Homo sapiens: one gene and its partner. The protein of the gene in region 2 purifies or fractionates together with the protein of the main gene of each other region. This does not show direct contact. Each region holds a gene or a part of one and is shown on either strand. Other genes may lie near its edges.

Evidence for each region. Proteins that work in one complex are often made in the same cells at the same time.
Region 1: the proteins of PHLPP2 (region 2) and MARCHF1 purify together in Homo sapiens (affinity purification with western blotting; one study listed by BioGRID). This does not show direct contact.

The regions. Positions count from the first base shown.
Region 1 is NC_000004.12:164,374,020-164,377,519, forward strand, and holds part of MARCHF1 (E3 ubiquitin-protein ligase MARCHF1), read right to left. Parts: intron 1-3,500. UniProt on the Homo sapiens protein: E3 ubiquitin-protein ligase that mediates ubiquitination of TFRC, CD86, FAS and MHC class II proteins, such as HLA-DR alpha and beta, and promotes their subsequent endocytosis and sorting to lysosomes via multivesicular bodies.
Region 2 is NC_000016.10:71,672,702-71,676,201, forward strand, and holds part of PHLPP2 (PH domain leucine-rich repeat-containing protein phosphatase 2), read right to left. Parts: intron 1-3,500. UniProt on the Homo sapiens protein: Protein phosphatase involved in regulation of Akt and PKC signaling.

The DNA.
Region 1 (3,500 bases), on a different chromosome or scaffold from region 2:
TTTCTTTAAAACAATTTATCAGCATAAGTTCTCTCTTACACTGTTTTGAGGGAAATTTTTCAAATAAATGTTCACATTAGATGTGTTGCCACAGAATAGAAATTAGCATGAAACAGAGGATTATTTTCGCATCATTTTTTCCTCTACATATAATTTATTACAATTATACACTCAGAAAAGTATTTTTAAAATCCACAAGAAAACTAATTAGATTTAACAGACGTCAACATTTTTTTAAGTTTTGCTTTAATATTCATCTTTTAATCCAATAATTATTAATTTAAATTGTTATTATGATAATAATTCAGTCTTATTATTACTAAAAGTATTTGGGAAATTTAAAAAGTGGGACAAAAAGCTAACGATAGTCCTATGACAACTATTAACAGTTGAAAATACTTCCTATTTGTAAAATAAACATTTCCTTTATTTTTGACATTACTGGGTAATGTATGTTTCAAAAAATTAAAGCCTTCTGCCTCATTTTTAACAATTTTTGAAAATTGACAACTATGGCTTATCCTCATAACAAAAGCTATAGAAATAGCATCTATTATCACTTCTTAAGACTCATCTTCTCTACCATGAATGTCATAAGGAACAAACCAAAAAGTATCAGACTTTTCCTTCTATATTATACTTGTCACTTAATATCTTAATAATGCGTCAAATTGATTCCCCCATCTCTTTAATTCTCTGCTATTGTTAATGGCACAGAATCTTTCTTTCATGTAGTAGTTACTTAATAAATACTTGTTTATCCATTTATTTAGTAAAGGTTTCTAAAATAAGACATACTCATGAGGTTAAAAGATTTCATAAAAGATTAAGTTTAAACATAAGCTATAAATAAACCAAGTTATCTTATTAAAAAGGAAAGAGAGCTGGCAAGAACTTATTGTATATATTATGCTAAATATTAAAGGGTCATTTCACAGGGTGCCTGGGACCTGACTTTGGGTTCCATGAAAACAAAATTGCTAAGAAATGTTAAAGGAAATATAGCTCTAAGTGGAAAATAATTTGTCTCTAATTGATCGAATTTCAAATTTGGGAGAATTTAGCAGAACCAAAATCCAAACTCATGTGAGTATAGAGGCAATTTAACTTCATTAAAACCTAAATACAAAAGCTGATTCCAGAATGAATAATTAAATGTGGCTATGTGCTATGCTTCAGTAACATCTAATAGACCTTTGTGTGTTACACTATTAAAATAAATCAAGTAAAATTTTAATTGAAATGTTGTACTTTTAAAAGAAAATATCTACCCATAATTCTACCACTCTAAAAATTAATAGATAACTAGCAAAAATATATAAATTTTATAACTATGTAAAAACTACTTAGTTATATGGAACTTAAAAGCCTTGTAGGTAGTCCTTAAGGTATCATCACCATGAGCTGGAACAAATACATTGAGTAATAAATAAATAAATAGTTCATTCTCCTTTCTTTCAACTCTATTTCTTTAGAAGTTCTCTAACTTTAAATGATAACTCCTACAACTTTTATTTGATTCAAATGTTCATAACTCTTAATATTTGCTAGGCTGCATATTCGATACAACATTCTTCCCAGATTCATACATTTCTTTTTTGCAAATAGATGGTCTGTATTTGTTAGCACCTTTTTACTGCTCCCCTACTACATGCACATACACATGCACACACACATGTACAATTAATTCCTTACTATGGCAAATATTTTGTGACAGTCCCTTATGTTTAGTACCTCTCTTCAGCCTACATCACACTCCCTCTGACTGTGAGTCTTTCAAACTTCCCCCAACAGTAGGACCTTGAGCACACTTCATTTCTCCCTCTGTTAGAAAATTTTTATCTTTTTTCTCCACCTCATTAACCCTTCCTTCAGATGTCAGGTAAAATGTCACCTCCTCAAGGAGGCTTCCCCAGACCTCCCTGGCTGAGTCAAACTCCCCTCTAATAGGCTTCCCCATTACTGTGCATCTGGCCTTCATTATACTCACTTTTGCGTATGTGCACTGGCTTGTGTGATTATTTAATTAATTTCACAGAAATAAAAAGCTCCAAAGAGGCAGGAATCATGCCACATCTTTCACTCATCATTACATTACCAGGACCTAGCTGAGTGTTGAGCATAGAGTAGACTGCCAATAACTACATATTAAAGTATAGTAAAAAAGAAGGAAGAGATGCAAATTAATCATTATGTCAACAGATGACCTCACAGTTACTAGAAAAATTATTTAAATGGTCTCACTTGGTGATCTGAAAGATGACAGATTTGTAAAGAAAGTATCTCTGAAAATACATGTTTTATCTTCTTTCTTTTTTTCTCTCATTGTAATGGATGTAGCTTATGATTTAGTCCTGCTTTTCTTTCTCTTATTCATTTTTCTCTAGAGAAGGAAAGTCATAAATCTTAGGCCAGGCTCTCTTCAAAAGCAGAGTCTGAACTAAAAAATTATGTGCAAATAATACAAGGTGATCCCGGAGAGTAGGAGTGAGGCACCGGGTAAAGTGAACCAGGGAGAGAGTAAAGGCTAATACAGGTGCATGCAGTTGGGTCACTTCCATGGCCGGTTGAGGCTCCTTCTCACTTGGACCTTATGAGGAGCTGCAGAGTGCGTCTCGGAACTATCCACCCATTCCCACTGACTGCGAGGCTCCATGGTGGTGTTAGCTCCTCCTCACTTCCAGGCTGCATGGACCACGGTCAGAAGCAGGGGGAAAGATAAGACATGCTAGTAAAGTCACAGAAAAGAAAGTGAAAGATACTCAGCGCAAGCTTGAGATGGGAAATAGCACAACTGAGTCAAAGGCTGCCTACAATGATTGCCCGAGCCAGAGCCAGAAACAGATGTGAGATTGACAGGACATCCGGCAGGGTCCAAAAAGCATGTGATATACTTCATGAGAATCAGATCATTGCTCACCACAGTCAGCCCCAATGAGCCTCAATGTCAGTACCTAATTTATCACTCTCACCAAGCTTCCATTTATCTCCTGATGTGCCTCAGGACACTGAATTGAAGGCAGGCACAAGAATCTATTCCAGGCATTCTCCGACTTCCAATCATTGTGTCCCAAATAGTCAGTGATTTCTGGAATATGTTATCTGGAATATGTTACCTGCAACATACAAGTCACTCAAAAATAACATTACATGTAATAGTTCAATCCATCCGTCACCAGGCAGACTTAACAAAAATTCTAGGTCAATCCATAAAAGCACAGTTAATTTAAATCATATATCTCTAACAATCTACTTCAGGTATAACCTGAATTAACTATATTTCCGTGAATTGGTCTAGAAATACGTTCTGAGTTTTATCCATATACCAATAAGAAAAGAGATAAACATAGTACTAGCTTGTTAACACTATTGTATGTATTTCACAAGAAATCAGTCTGTATCAGTTGCTTTTCAGAGCCAACAGTTGGAAAAATAGGACAGTTGTTTCTAAGAAGAGGGAGACTCCAGACTTCACACATTTTTCACTCCATAAATGTAGC
Region 2 (3,500 bases):
ACAAACTGAACACACTAGTGGAACCAACACCCGGATCAAGAAACAGAACATTACCAGCTCCCTGGGAACTGCCCCATGTTTCCCTTTCCAGTCACTTCCCCTCAAGGAGTCCTGACTCCAAGTACCAAATTACTTTTACCTGTCTACATAAATATATGCATGCGGTATGTATAATTACTTTTGCCTATCTATGTAAACATATGCATGCAGTATGTATAATTATTTCTGCCTATCTACATAAATATATGCACACAGTATGTATAATTTACTTGTCTGGCTTCATTCACTCCACAATATGCTTACAGGATTTGTTTATACAGTTGCATATGATTATAGCTCATTCATTCTCATGCCTGTAAAAAATTATTTTATGTGAATATACCACAATTTATTTGCCCATTTTAGAGTTGATGACATGTTAAGTCTTTTCCAGTCTGCAGTTACTATGAATAGTACTTCTGTGAACATATTTGTCCGTGTCTTTTGTGGACTAATATAAGTCCTTATATTGAACGTAAGCCTAGAAGAGGCACTGCTGGGTACAGGGTATGTTTCTGTTCACCTTAGCAGATACTACTGAACAGTTTTCCAAAGTGGTTGTACCAATTTACACTCCAACAGCTGCCCCTGGGATTTTTAGGCCTTTCCATTCTAGTCATTCTGGTAGGTGTATAGTGGTGCCACGCAGGAGTTTCAATTTGCATATCCCTGATGACTAGTCAAGTTCAGTGCTTTCCCTATATTAACTGATCACATTTAGATAACTTCTTTTTGTAAAGCAGAGTTCTTGACTTTGAGGCATCAAAACTGCAAGTTTTTATGTGAATTCTTCCAGGTTGTAGAATTTAAGGATTTTGTAAACGGAGTAGCAGACCTCAAACAAGCCCTGTTCAGTTAACTGCTGTGATAGAATCCTGGTGACTTTTTCATGTATTTAAGTATTTAAATACTATTAAAATATTTCATTTATCTGTACATACTTAAATATTTACAAAGAGTAAATATTTAGGACTGTGTGCCTGTTGATGAGGTCTTTTCCAGTAGGGCCAGGAATTCACTGTTTAGACACATTAAGGATAGGGATGGGCCTGATAACAAAAATCTCCACAGCTAGGACTTACTACAATGTCAGGCATCTATAAACAGCATAAGTCAACACTCACCAGTTTTAACACTCTTCTGACCAAGCAATTAATCTAAGCTACAATTTGAAGCTTCTATAACATAATAAAAGGCAACGCAAACAGAAGTCCTCAACTTTTATCTGTATAATCTAGTTTACAGATACAGAAAAATAAAGAGCATAAAATAATGAACCCTCTTTCACCTATCATATAGCTTTTAACAAACCTACATTCTGCTTTATATGTGGCAGACTTTTTTTTTTTTTTTTGAGATGGAGCTTTGCTCTTGTTGCCCAAGCTGGAGTGTAATGGCATGACCTTGGCTCACTGCAACCTCCACCTCCGGGGTTCAAGCAATTCTCCTGCCTTAGCCTCCCGAATAGCTGGGATTACAGGCACGCGCCACCATGCCCAGCTAATTTTTTGTATTTTTAGTAGAGATGGGGTTTCACCATAATAGCCAGGCTGGTCTTGAACTCCTGACCTCAGGTGATCTGCCCACCTAGGCCTCCAAAGTGTTGGGATTACGGGCTTGAGCCACTGTGCCAGGCCCAGACTTTTTTTTTTTTTTTTAAAGAATTAAAATACCACACATACCAAGAGTAAACATCATCCTGAATATGGTTTTCATCACTCTCATGTATTCTTTCATAGTTATGGCATATTTATAACGAAGAAAACAATATTTCTGTGAGTGTTTTAAATTTTGATATAACTATCACAATATACATTTAATTATGCACTTTTCCTTGCTCAAAAAAAAGTGTGCAATTTATCCATATTACCATGCAAAGCTTTAGTACATTCATTTTCACTGCTGTGCAATATTCTATTGCATGAATATATCACTACCGATTTGCCCATTTTCCTATTAATAATCCTACTTTTAGGCCGGGTGTAATGGCTCACACCTGTAATCCCAACCCTTTGGGAGGCTGAGGTGGGCAGCTAACTAGAGGTTAGGAGTTCAAGAACAGCAAGGCCAATATGGTGAAACCATGTCTCTACTAAAAATACAAAAATTAGATGGGCATGGTGGCACACTCCTGTAATCCCAGCTACTCAGGAGGCTAAGAGAAGAGAATCGCTTGAACCTGGGCAGCAGAGGTTGCAGTGAGCTGAGACCAGGCAACTGCACTCCAGCCTGGGCAACAGAGCTAGACTCCGTCTCAAAATCCTACTTTTTCATGCTCACAAAAAGTGATAAACAATCTGTTATACATCTCCTTGTGCACATGTGGGTGTCTTTGGGATATATCCCAATCAGGAAACTTCTAGAATATGGTATGTGTGTGTCTCGACATCTCTAACACTGTCACATTACTCTCTGGGGTGGTTTTACCAGTCACCTCTCACTGGCAGTGTGTGAGTGCTCAGGAAGATGCTTCTCCTCGCCTCTGGAAACACTCAGAATTACCTTTTTTTAAATGTGATGAGTATAAAATGTTATTATTTACATTTGCATTTTTCTGACAGTAAAATTTAACCTATTTTCCTTTCCTTCCTTAAACACATATCAAAAGTAAACAAAGGTAAAGAACTTTCCATAAAAAGAATGGCCTCGACAAATATGAGGACCTTTTCATTGAAAAATATTCTTAGAGCAAATCACTATTGAAATCAGTGGCTTCTCATTCTAGCACTGAGGCTACACAAGCTTTTAAACCACGAATTGGCAAACTTTTTCTGTAAAAGGCTAAATAGTAAACATTTTAGGCTTTGCGGACCATATCACAGTCTCTCTTACTACTATTCAATTCTGCCACTGTAGCACAAGAGCAAGAATGTATAAACAATATGCAAGCAAACCACTGTGGCTGCATTCCAGTACAACTTCATTCAGAAACATAGAAACTTGAATTTCATAGTAATTTTCACATGTCACAAAATTCTTCTTTCTTTTTTTGAGATGGGGTCTCACAAGTCTCACCCAGTTCTCTCATGAGAACATGCAATGGCACGGTCTCAGCTCACTGTAACCTCTGCCTTCCAGGCTCAAGTGATCCTCCCATCTCAGCCTCCTGAGTAGCTGGGACCACAGGTTTGCCACCATGCTGGCTAACTTTTGTATTTTTTGTAGAAATGGGGTTTCACCATGTTGCCCAGGCTAATCTCGAACTCCTGAGCTCAGGTGATCAGCCCACCTCAGCCTCCCAAAGTGCTGGGATTACAGGCATGAGCCCCCATGATTGGCCACAAAATTCTCCTTTTGACTTTTTTTTTTACCCAACCATTAGAAAAATGTAAAAACCATTCCGTATGGGCCATAAAAAAAGAGGTGGCAGGCCAGATGCAGTCCTGGGGTATAGTTTGCCAACCTGTTTTAGACTATTATTGATGCTCTGTTTTGAACATGCTTGCCCACCTCCCCACCAC